Homo sapiens: one gene and its partners. The protein of the gene in region 3 interacts with the protein of the main gene of each other region in a pairwise test. Each region holds a gene or a part of one and is shown on either strand. Other genes may lie near its edges.

Region 1 (3,655 bases), on a different chromosome or scaffold from region 3:
GTCCCAGTGATGAATCAGGCTTTGTATACTATATGAGAGAACATTACCTCCATAGAACTTGGTGGAGACAAAAGGGACCAACAAAAACAAATCAATAAAATTGTATAAAATGCTGTGGAGGAAACCAGAAAAGATCTGAGAAGTTACCATGCAGGGCAGTCTAATTGCATAACTTCAAAAGACCACTCTACCAGCTATGGAAAATAAAGCAGAAGTGAAGGGAAGTTAGAAAGCTCTTTATGGTAGTGAGAGGTGTTGGGTGCCTGGGCTATGATGGTTTATGGCCCCGGTAAGGATAGCAGGAGTGGAAATGGAAAACTGAATTGTAAGTATCCTTAGAAGTGAGCAAACAAGACGTAGCAGGAAGATTGGATTCCAGAGGAGAAGCAGTGAGAGAAAGGAACAAATCAAAGATGATTCTGAAGTTTTTTGTTTGAACAACTGTGTAAATGGTGGTGCTAGTTACTGAGATAGAAAATTGAGGGTTAGGAACAGGTTTGAGAGAAATTGAGTTCTGTTATGGACATTTAGTTTAATAAGAGACATTCAATAGGCATGTCAGATATGCTGTTGGATATGCACATCTAATGCTCAGAAAGATATGAGCTGCAGATACAAATGTGAGAGTTTATCTTGGTGTCCCCAGGCTGCCGTGAGAAAATACCATAGCCTGAGTGGCTTAAACTACAGAAATTTATTTTCTCACAGTTCTGGAAGCTCATCCCATGCCCATGGTGGGGCATATACCCATTTATTGGAATGGTAGGGTGACCATCTGCACTGTTTAAACTATTTTTCCCACTCACTTGGCTGACCATGTATACCTGAAGTGAATGTGCATGCTGCTCTAGTCTTTTTACCTCAGCACACTTTTTTTTTTAACCTCAGCACATTTACCTCATGCCCTTAGGTCAGTTCTACTCTCTCCCCTCAGGAAGACCTGGCCCAGAAAGCACTCTCTCCTATTCATCTCCACTCTCTGTTTTGAAGCATTTTGCTGAGGGAGAGTTAACTTATTCTTGGATGCTTGTCTTTAAGGGTTTTTTCTTTCCTCTCTTCTTTCCTAAAGTTACCCATGAAAAAAAATCTGTTTATCTCCTCCTCATTTCGTGAGCCCAAAAACTCAACTCATGGCTGATAAAGATTAAGAATAATATTACTGGTATCTACATCAATGTGTCTCAAATTTGAATAAATTATTTAGAGGTAAACATAAAATTAAAAAATTATATTGATAATTTCTGCAGATAGCTAGTGTTGAGTTATTCTATTACAATGTTACTTAAATATATACACACATAAAATAGGTTAAATTTCTTGTGCATGTAACTTTTATATAGCTCAAAAATCAAAACAACTGTAAAACCAATAATTAAAATTAATGACATTAATGTGGAGAGATGATGTTTTTCTGAAACTAAATTACCACTTGCACTGTAAAAATGATATTATGTGGTACAGGATTTTAAAATTTGGCCTGCAGTGACCAAGTCTCTAGTCACTTGTTTTATGATTGTTTAAAAAACAAAAACAACTTTCTTCTTTATAGCACACTGAGGACACTTGACCTTCATTAGTCACAAGCACATCATTTTTCTCTTAAGTGTACCACCAAGTTCTAGTTTTTGGAACTAAAGCAATCAAAATAAGCAATTACTTGGCAATACTTTTTTTTCTTTTTTTCTTTCTTTTTTTTTTTTTGAGCCAGGGTCTCGCTCTGTCACCCAGGCTGGAGTGCAGTGGCGCGGTCATGGCTCACTGCAGCTTTGACCTTCTGGGCTCAAGTGATCCTCTGGCACCCGGCTAATTTTTTGTATTTTTTGTAGAGATGGAGTTTTGCCATGTTGCCCACACTGGTCTCACACTATTGGACTCAAACCATCTGCCCTCCTCAGCCTCACAAAGTGTTGGGATTACAGGCATGAGCCACCGCGCCTGGCCGCAGTACCATCCTTTATAATAAAGGAGATCTAGAATATGCTTATCCTATTATTATTTTCTTAGATCATCACTGAAATTTCACTTCCCTTGGTTTCAGTAACCTGTTGTCCACCATGGTCTGAAAATATTAAATGAAAAATTTCAGAAATAAGTAATTTGTAAGTTTTAAATAACTTATTACAATATATAATTGTTCTATTTTCTTGTTAACCACTTACTGTGTGTCCAATTTATGAATTAAACTTTATCATAAGTATATATGTATAGGAAAAAACATAGTATATGCATATAGGATTTGGGACTATCTATAGTTTTAGGTATTCACTGGGGGTCTTGGAACCTAATCCCCACATATAAGTGGGGACTACTGTACTCAATTTTAAATGAAATGGATAAAAGCAAAAAGCCCTGTAATATGAGTGCTCAGACATTCCTTTTAGAGTCTTACGTCCATATATTTGCTTTTCATTTACTGTTTGATTAACGCCCCCACAATCAGTAAGACTTTGTATTAGCTTTTGGTTTGTTTTTGTTTTTGAGACAGGGTCTCACTCTGTTGCCCAGGGTGGAGTACGGTGGCACAAATCATGGCTCACTGTAGCCTTGAACTCCTGGGCTCAAGCAGATCTCCCACCTCAGTCTTCCTAGTAGGTAGGACTACAGGCACATGCTTCCACGCCTCGCTAATTTATTTTTTGTAGAGATGGCATCTCGCCATGTTGCTCAGGCTGGGCTGGATGGAACCCCTGGGCTCAAGCAATCATGAGCCACCTCACTCAGCCCTTTTCAAGCTTTCTATACATTTTAATGTGGAAATTTGTTGTTGTAAAAATGCATTTGTTCTCCATACTTTTGTTTTCTACCTCTTTTATCTTTGGCCCCTGGTAGAGGAAGAAAAAGTCCTGTTCAAACAGTGAAACTGGGCCGTGCACGGTGGCTCATGCCTGTAATCCCAGCACTTCAGGAGGCGGAGGCGGACGGATCACTTGAAGTCAGGAGTTCCAGACCAGGCTGGCCAACAGGGCGAAACCCCATCTCTACTAAAAATACAAAAAAATTAGCTGGGTGTGTAATCCCAGCTATTTGGGAGGCTGAGGCAGGAGAATCGCTTGAACCCCGGAGGCAGAGGTTGCAGTGAGCCAAGATCGCGCCGCTGTACTCCAGCCTGGGCAACAGAGCAAAACTGTCTCAAAAAAAAAAAAAGAAAAAGAAAAGAAACAGTGATACTTAAGGTTGTAGACCTTAGTTCTATTTTAATTGTAAACTGCTCAACCCTTCAAGCATCAAAAATAAATGCCCACCTTTTCCCCTTAAAAAAAAAAAAAGATTCATACTCTTCAAGGCAAGATTACAAGTTAATATAAAAGTCCCCCCTCCCCCACAAATTTTTTTCAATTTTTTAATTTTTTTTTTTTGTAGTGACGGGTTCTCACTTTGTAGGCCCAGGCTGGTTTCAAACTCCTGGCCTCAAGCGATCCTCCCACCTCGGCCTCCCCAAGTGCTAGGATTATAGGCACAAGGCACTGAGCCTGGCCAAGCTCTTTTGTTTTAATATCAGAATTTATATTAACATGTTATTTTGTTTCTTAAGGTTGGAATACACACCAAGGCTTGGTTTATTGCTGGAATCTTTTTGCTGTTGACTATTCCTATATCACTGTGGGTGATATTGCAACACTTAGTGCATTATACACAACCTGAACTACAAAAACCA
Region 2 (3,655 bases), on a different chromosome or scaffold from region 3:
TCACTGACCACAGATTAATATGTTTTATACTTTGGGACAGATGATTCTAAATCATAACATTTGAGTCCTAGTTTTATGAACTACCCAAGGACACTGTTCCACAGATATATCTGGATGAAGTTTGGCAGTTAACTATTATAGACTCTTCCTAGTACTGGAAAAAAGCTTTAAAATATATTTAATTTAAGTTTAGAGTCAAGACAGCCTGAGGCTAGTGAGTAACATAGATATTTTAGGAATTAGTGTCTTTAAGACTAACATAAGTCAAACGTTTGTACACTATTTTTGACATGTACTACTTATTATTGCTGATTGAGATTGTAATACTGTATTATTGTCTTCATTTTGCTTATTTAACACTGAATTTTTTGGTATTAGGTACTGTACTGGGGTTGGGAAGAAGACTTAATTAAAAGTTACTAAAAGGTTCTTCTTTCAGGGAGTTTACAATGTAAATATAGGTGACAACAGGCTATAGTACTATGTGGTAAATTGTAATTTTGTCTAGGACAGAAGTCAGCAACTATAGCCTTTGGACCAAATTCAGCTGCTGCTTGTACACCACCACACCCCTTCTTTTATGCAGCTTTTGTGCTACTATGGCAGAGTGAGTAGTTAGAGACTTTATGGCCCTCTACAAAGCCTAAAATATTTACTATTGGCCTTTTACAGGAAAGATTTGTTAATCCCTGATCTAGAGGAATTGAAGTCTTTGCAGAGGAGATTTTAAATTTAGGCCTTTGGAAATGTGAGTAAGATTTCATTCCAAGATTGCCAGGAAGAGTAGAGAAAAAGCATTCTAGGCTTAGAAAGCAGCAACAACAAAGAATGGTACTAGACGGATAGCATGTTTGGGAAACTAGGTAGTGTTCTGGGCTAGACATAGGGAAATGACTGGAAACATAGGATTGGGCCAGATTGGTAAAGTCTTGCAAAACATGAAGATTTTGAATTCTAGTCAGCAGAGATCATTCACAATTTTTAAGGGAAGGGGATATGATATGTTTGAGAAAGAAAACTGATGAGAGTATTATTGATGATGAGTTGGAAGGAAGAGAGACTGCAGACAGAAAATACTATTTTTTTCGCTGAGGATGGCGAGGGTGAAAAGAAAATACATTTAAGAATAAAAAAGAGGCTGGGCTTGGTGGCTCATGCCTGTAATCCCAGCACTTTGGGAGGTCAAGGCGGGAGGATTGCTCGCTCACAGGAGTTTGAGACCAGCTGGGGCAACAAAGTGAGATCCTGTCTCTACAAAAAAATTTTAAAAAATTAGCCAGACATGATGGCACATGCCTGTAGTCCCAGCTACTTTGGAGGTTGAGGTGGGAAGATTGCTTGAGCCCAGGAGTTGAGGCTGCAGTAAGCTGGGATCACGCCATTGCACTCCAGCCTGGGCAACAGAGCGAGACCTTGTTTTAAAACAATAAATAAATTAGAAAAAAAACAGTATTCTCAGTACTATAGGACCTGATTAAGTTTGTGGGACTGAAAATGATTTATGCTTTTCAAATATGGAATCTAGCTGTAAATGTTGCTGTTATCTTTTGGTTGGGGTAGGGGAGGCAGCTGCAGTTACTATGGTGGTAGTGGAATGAGTTTGGAGTCCAACATGTCTAACTGGTATGTTTGGATAGAAATTTCCGAAAGACATTGAGAAATACAGTTAAAGCTGTATTTCTAGCATTACCTATAATAATTTTTAATTTACTTTTGATGTGATGTTTTTGGATTTGCCGTATTCTTAAGTGATTTTTACACATTAAAGGTCTAAGAAAGTATTTTGATGAAGTACATTTCTGATAGTATGTGTAATTAAATCATTTGAAAATACAGTTGCATGGACAGAAATTTGGAGTTTTGTGAAATAAATGAAACCCACCTTAACTGCCTCTATATCAGTTTACTAATATTTTCATTGAAAATAAATATATTCCTTATAATTAAATTCTACTTTGTGGAACAAGAATAGAACCTGAAGGCATGGAGGAGAGTCATTATAAAGTTATATATTAGGTAATGTTTTTGCTGTCCAAAATGATGAGCATTTATAATTCCCAAGAAAAGCTGCATTTTAAGGAAGAATATTGATAAAAGAATATATAGACACATAGCTCTGAAATAACTAACACAATTAAAGTACCAGTGGGATAAGAATTTATACATCTTGGAGCCCCATCTGTTCCCCAATCACCCTGTTGCTTCTTTAAGTACATTAATACTTTCAGCAAGCTGCTTTTTTGGTTCACCTGTCATGTAAATTATTTAATTGGTGAAGAAAATTTCTTAACACTTTTTTTCCTTGTCCTGCTTTTTTGTTGGGACTAAATTCAAAATAAGTTGAGTATGTGCCATAGAGTTAAGTGTGGTATTTTATTTTGGTGTTATGGCTGTAGATATGCCAGCTTCTTTTTGACTGAATATTTATGAGCTTTGATGATTTGCATACTTACAGTAATATACTTCAATTAGTTACTTGGAAGCCTTTTTGGATAAAATTAATGGATAAAAGGAAACTATTGAAAATATGTGTAGATGATATAATAGTCATTTGAATAGGTGATTATTGAACCAAATACGGGTGAAACAGCAGCAAAACAACAGCTTGTTGGAGACTTCGATTGTATTTTTTTCATTCTGGGTTCCTTAAACATTCCAGTATTTTCCATCTATAAGCAGTTGCTTTTTTTTTTTTTTTTAATGATTCTGTAACCTTCAACAGGACCGAGTTATTTTTAATAGCATAGTAAAGGCCATAAATACCTTTTCTTGTAGTGGCAGATAGTGTATATAATTACTTCAGAGATACTTATTTAGATACTGTTAGAATTTTATTTAGTAACTTACCAATTTTTATGCCATAGATTTTTATTTTAATTTTTATTGTGGCTATTGATTAAAGACTGGTAAAATTGAAAATACTTAAGCTTATTACTATGTTATTACATGTGATTATATTTAGTGTATTAAAATACACAATTACCATTGAGGTTTGAAACTACATTTATTTTTAGTTAGTTGTCTGAGAGTGATTTATCCAAACAAAATGGGTAAGCTTTAAGGAGACCTTCTTTGCAGAGGTTTTTTTTGGGTGGGCTTTCCTGCTATAGTCAGATTTGATCCTATTTACTACTTTGTAAATTTTGGAAAACCAAGAGGTTCTTCTAATCACAAAGGTATTAGTGGAATTTTCAAATGCTGTCTGAGATTGTGCCTGTGTCTGCGATGGCAGTACTTTTTGTCTCTTGCAGTTTTTCTTGTTTTGAAGTTGGATTAAATTTGAGGAAGAATCAGTGTTAGTATGACGTTTAGTCAGCAAGCAGCTTTTATTTAGTTAGCTCCAATTATTTTGTTGGTATGTCTCTCCACAGGTAGATGACACACTCCTTGTGTGCTTGATGTCAGTGGAGCCTAGTACAATTCTTGATAATAGTAGATCTTAAATAAATATGGTATAAATGTAGTCCTTTTTATTTTGCCTCTGTGTGATATAGTTTTGCTTACTTTTATAATAAGACAAGTTGCTCATGATAAAAAAGGTTAACATTTAAAATATGGATTTGATTTTTCTAATTTCAGGTTTATCTCGGGGTTTGGGGATCTCATTTGACATTTTATTGTCAGACTAAAAGTTGACAGTCACAGCTTTAATTCT
Region 3 (3,655 bases):
TAGGTTTCAGAGAAGCTATGTGAGGCTGTGAAGAGGATTCTTTTTTAATGTCTTTATTTTTATACTACCCCTCCACAGCCTTACCCCAATCTTTTAAACCACACCGGAAGCTATGTACTCATCGTTTTTTTCCTGTAATTTTTTTTACAGTACAACCTAAATAAATACTGGCCCAGAAAGATTCAGAGTTCAAAGAAAATTCAGCTGCTTTCGGAAAGATCATTCTATGGGAAAGATCACATTTCTGAGTAATAAACATTATAAATACATATTCCGATTTATTTTTAATTCTCAAACTATTAACTTTCATTTTTCCCCTCTGGCATATTTTAATTTTTGTCCTACAGGGACTTGAGTCTAAATATGTTTTAACAATTTGGGGGACTTTTCTTTTTTCACCTTGCTATTTCTAGAGACTAAAATCTTTGAGCTACCAAGGTCTTTCAAACTGGCTGATGTCACTCTAACAAACTCAGAGATAGCAAGATGTTCCTTAAGCCACTGGGTTAGAACGAGAATCCTTTGTTTTCTATGGGCACAATCCTAGGAATGTTTCTTCTCTTTTTTTTGAGACAGAGTCTCTCTCTGTCACCCAGCCTGGCGTGAAGTGGTGCCCTCTCAGCTCACTGCAACCTCCACCCCCCGGGTTCAAGTGATCCTCCTGCCTCAGCCTCCTGAGTAGCTGGGATTACAGGTGCACGCCACCACACCCTGCTAATTTTTGTATTTTTAGTAGAGACAAGATTTCACCGTGTTGGCCAGGCTGGTCTCAAACTCCTGACCTCAGGTGATCCACCCGCCTCAGCCTTCCAAAGTGCTAGGATTACAGGCGTTTGCTACCGTGCCCGGCAAGCCTAGGAATATTTCACTTCATGCTTTTCTCTTTTGCCTTGCTGTGAGCTTATCCTCCAGAGACAACAGAGAGAGAGAAAGAGAGAGAGACAGGAGAGAGAAAGTGGAAGAACCACATGACCAGTCATTTCCCGAAGCAAATGGCGTTTTGGGTGAATGCCCTGACCTAGGAGGGAAAAAGAGGCCAAGGTTACCCTAATGTTACAGAAGTAGCTAAGTGAATTCTTCTCCGAAAAACGTCACAGCAGGCTCTAGAAAGCAATTAGAGTAATATTTTGGCACCTCGAACTACCAAATAGAAGATTCCTCTACTGCTCTAGTTACATCTTTGATTTTCATTTCCCTTTGTTGTAAATACTTACAATGTCATTTCAGAATGCTGCAGAGAAATAGATGTGAGAGTAAACAAACTATAATAATAATCCTTTCTCCACATGCCATGGCAGCTGCAGGAGGAGGCCAACGCAGCACCGAACTTGCCTTACTGTCTGCTTTTCCTGTCCTCCTCCTCCTGCACCTCCTTCACCTCCTCCACCTCCTTCTCCTCCACTTTCCCACATGGTCTTTTATAAATTTGCCAGCATCACTGTGCAGTTTGCCAGAGAAACCTGGCCACTTGCTGGGTAAGCCTGCTCTTAGACCAAGGACCAGGGTAGGTCACTGCTGCTGTCCTCATTTCTGGGCCAGAAGGATTCACTGAGAGTGAGGTCCAGAACCACCTGCTTTCCCATTACAGAGGATGTGGATCTCTATAGAGACACTGCGTATCCCTTCAGTTAAAGCTCTTCGAAGACTCTTTTTACCCTGCGAGCTGAACTTTCTTGAGCCCCATAGAATGGATAAAAATCTTCATCCCCAGGTTGGTGAGGAGCCAATGATTTCACGCTCAAACAAGCTGACAAGCTAGGAATCCTAGCTTTCCTTAGCAGGCAGGAAACAGCATCCCACTCATAAGTCAGGAGTCTTTTCTGCCAATGTTAGGAATGTTGATATTTACCTTTATTTTTGGACTTATTTCTAAAAAAAATTAACTAGTATGTAAAAAAAAATCACACTTTAAAAATATGCTTCTACAATATTTGCTCTAGCGAACTATCTTTAGCTTGACCTAAATTACTAATTAAACTTTTCTATTGATCCAATTCCCATTACTGTTCCTGCCTTTATGCTTTCATATTCGGAAATCTCCAACATGCATTTTGATGGCTCCACCCCCCACGTTCCTCACTCCTGCCCCCTCATTTTGGTTTTGCTTTACCTTGTTAAGCACTTACAGATCATAAAATATGGGTGAGCTCAGAATATCTCTTACTCCAGTGTTACATATGGCACCCGCATTTCAGCACCAGCCCTTTAAAAAATGGTGCAGAATTTCAAGGAACTCAGCTACACTTTCCATTCAAAATCCCTCCCAAGCACTGTAGCTAAGAGCCTATCTCAGGATTTTCTTGAGAGCTGCTGGGGAGGCAAAATATCTATCTAACGAAAATGGCTCATCATCCACATTCTGCAGTACTGAGACTAATTCCCCAGCACTGCCAAACCTAGACTGCTGAACTCCCTCATCCAAACTCTCTAAGACTTAGTGGTCAAAGTGCCAAAGGCATCCGTCTTACTCACACTCTGTGGCTCCTAAGACCATGCTGAAAAGTGAGGATAAGTAATAATTGAAAGACATTTTTAGGATTCTAGTTGGGAGGATACATAATGCAGATACTATATAGTTTTTGTTTGTTTGTTTGTTTTTTGAGATGCTGTCTCACTGTGTTATCCAGCCTGGAGTACAATGGCGTGATCTTGGCTCACTGCCACCTCCGCCTCCCAGGTTCAAGTGACTCTCCTGCCTAGGCCTCCTGAGAAGCTGGGATTACAGGTGCCCACCACCACTCCCAGCTAATTTTTGTATTTTTAGTAGAGACGGGATTTCACCATGTTGGCCAGGCTGGCCTCAAACTCCTGACCTCAGGTGATCTGCCTGCCTTGGCCTCCCAAAATGCTGGGATTAAAGGTGTGAGCCACTGTGCCCAGCCTACTATATATTACTGAAGTTAGTAATTCATATTAATGCAAAATAAAAGGAGATTAGTGAATCACTGCTACGTCTGTCTTGTTTGGCCTGACAAGAAAAGTATCATAGAAGAGAAGGTGTGTTATGGGCATTGGATCAGCAAATAAGCTGAGGTCAAGCTTCCCTAAGTACCCACCAGCTCTGAAGGGGAAGTGACAGCTTGTCTTTGAGCCAGATTTAGGTTACATTTCAGTCTTAATTTATATCTAATCCATATCTAAACATAGAGAGAAATAAAATGCATTAGATTTCTGAGCCACCAAAGCCTGTTTAAAGGAAGACGGAGGAGGAAGGAGAAGAGGGCAATGACTTAGGGGCAAGTAATAGAAGGATTTGTTCTTTTATTTTATGCATTCTTTTATTCAACAAATATGTTTTGACAAGTAGGGGATACAGTGAACAAGGTAACTGGTTTTCTGTCCTTAAAGACCTTCCAGCCAGTTGTGGTGGCTCATGCTTGTAATCCCAGCACTTTGGGAGGCCAAGGCTTGTGGATCACCTGAGGTCAGGAGTTGGAAACCAGCCTGGCCAACATGGTGAAACCCTGTCTCTACTAAAAAAAAAAATACAAAAAAATTAGCTGTGCATGGTGGTGCACACCTGTAATCCCTGCTACTCAGGAGGCTGAGGCAGGAGAATTGCTTGAACCTAGGAGCCAGAGGTTGCAGTGAGATGAGATGGTGCCACTGCACTCCAGCCTGGGTGACAGAGTGAGACTGTATGAAAAAACAACAA

The links.
Region 1: the proteins of SGK1 (region 3) and TMEM184C interact in a two-hybrid assay, tested with the Homo sapiens proteins (one large-scale study listed by BioGRID and IntAct).
Region 2: the proteins of SGK1 (region 3) and CETN3 interact in binary tests that used the Homo sapiens proteins (3 or more experiments, as listed by UniProt).

Annotation. Positions count from the first base shown.
Region 1 is NC_000004.12:147,620,302-147,623,956, forward strand, and holds part of TMEM184C (transmembrane protein 184C), read left to right. Parts: intron 1-3,532; coding exon 3,533-3,655. UniProt on the Homo sapiens protein: Possible tumor suppressor which may play a role in cell growth.
Region 2 is NC_000005.10:90,399,633-90,403,287, reverse strand, and holds part of CETN3 (centrin-3), read left to right. Parts: intron 1-3,655. UniProt on the Homo sapiens protein: Plays a fundamental role in microtubule-organizing center structure and function. As a component of the TREX-2 complex, involved in the export of mRNAs to the cytoplasm through the nuclear pores.
Region 3 is NC_000006.12:134,308,006-134,311,660, forward strand, and holds part of SGK1 (serine/threonine-protein kinase Sgk1), read right to left. Parts: intron 1-3,655. UniProt on the Homo sapiens protein: Serine/threonine-protein kinase which is involved in the regulation of a wide variety of ion channels, membrane transporters, cellular enzymes, transcription factors, neuronal excitability, cell growth, proliferation, survival, migration and apoptosis.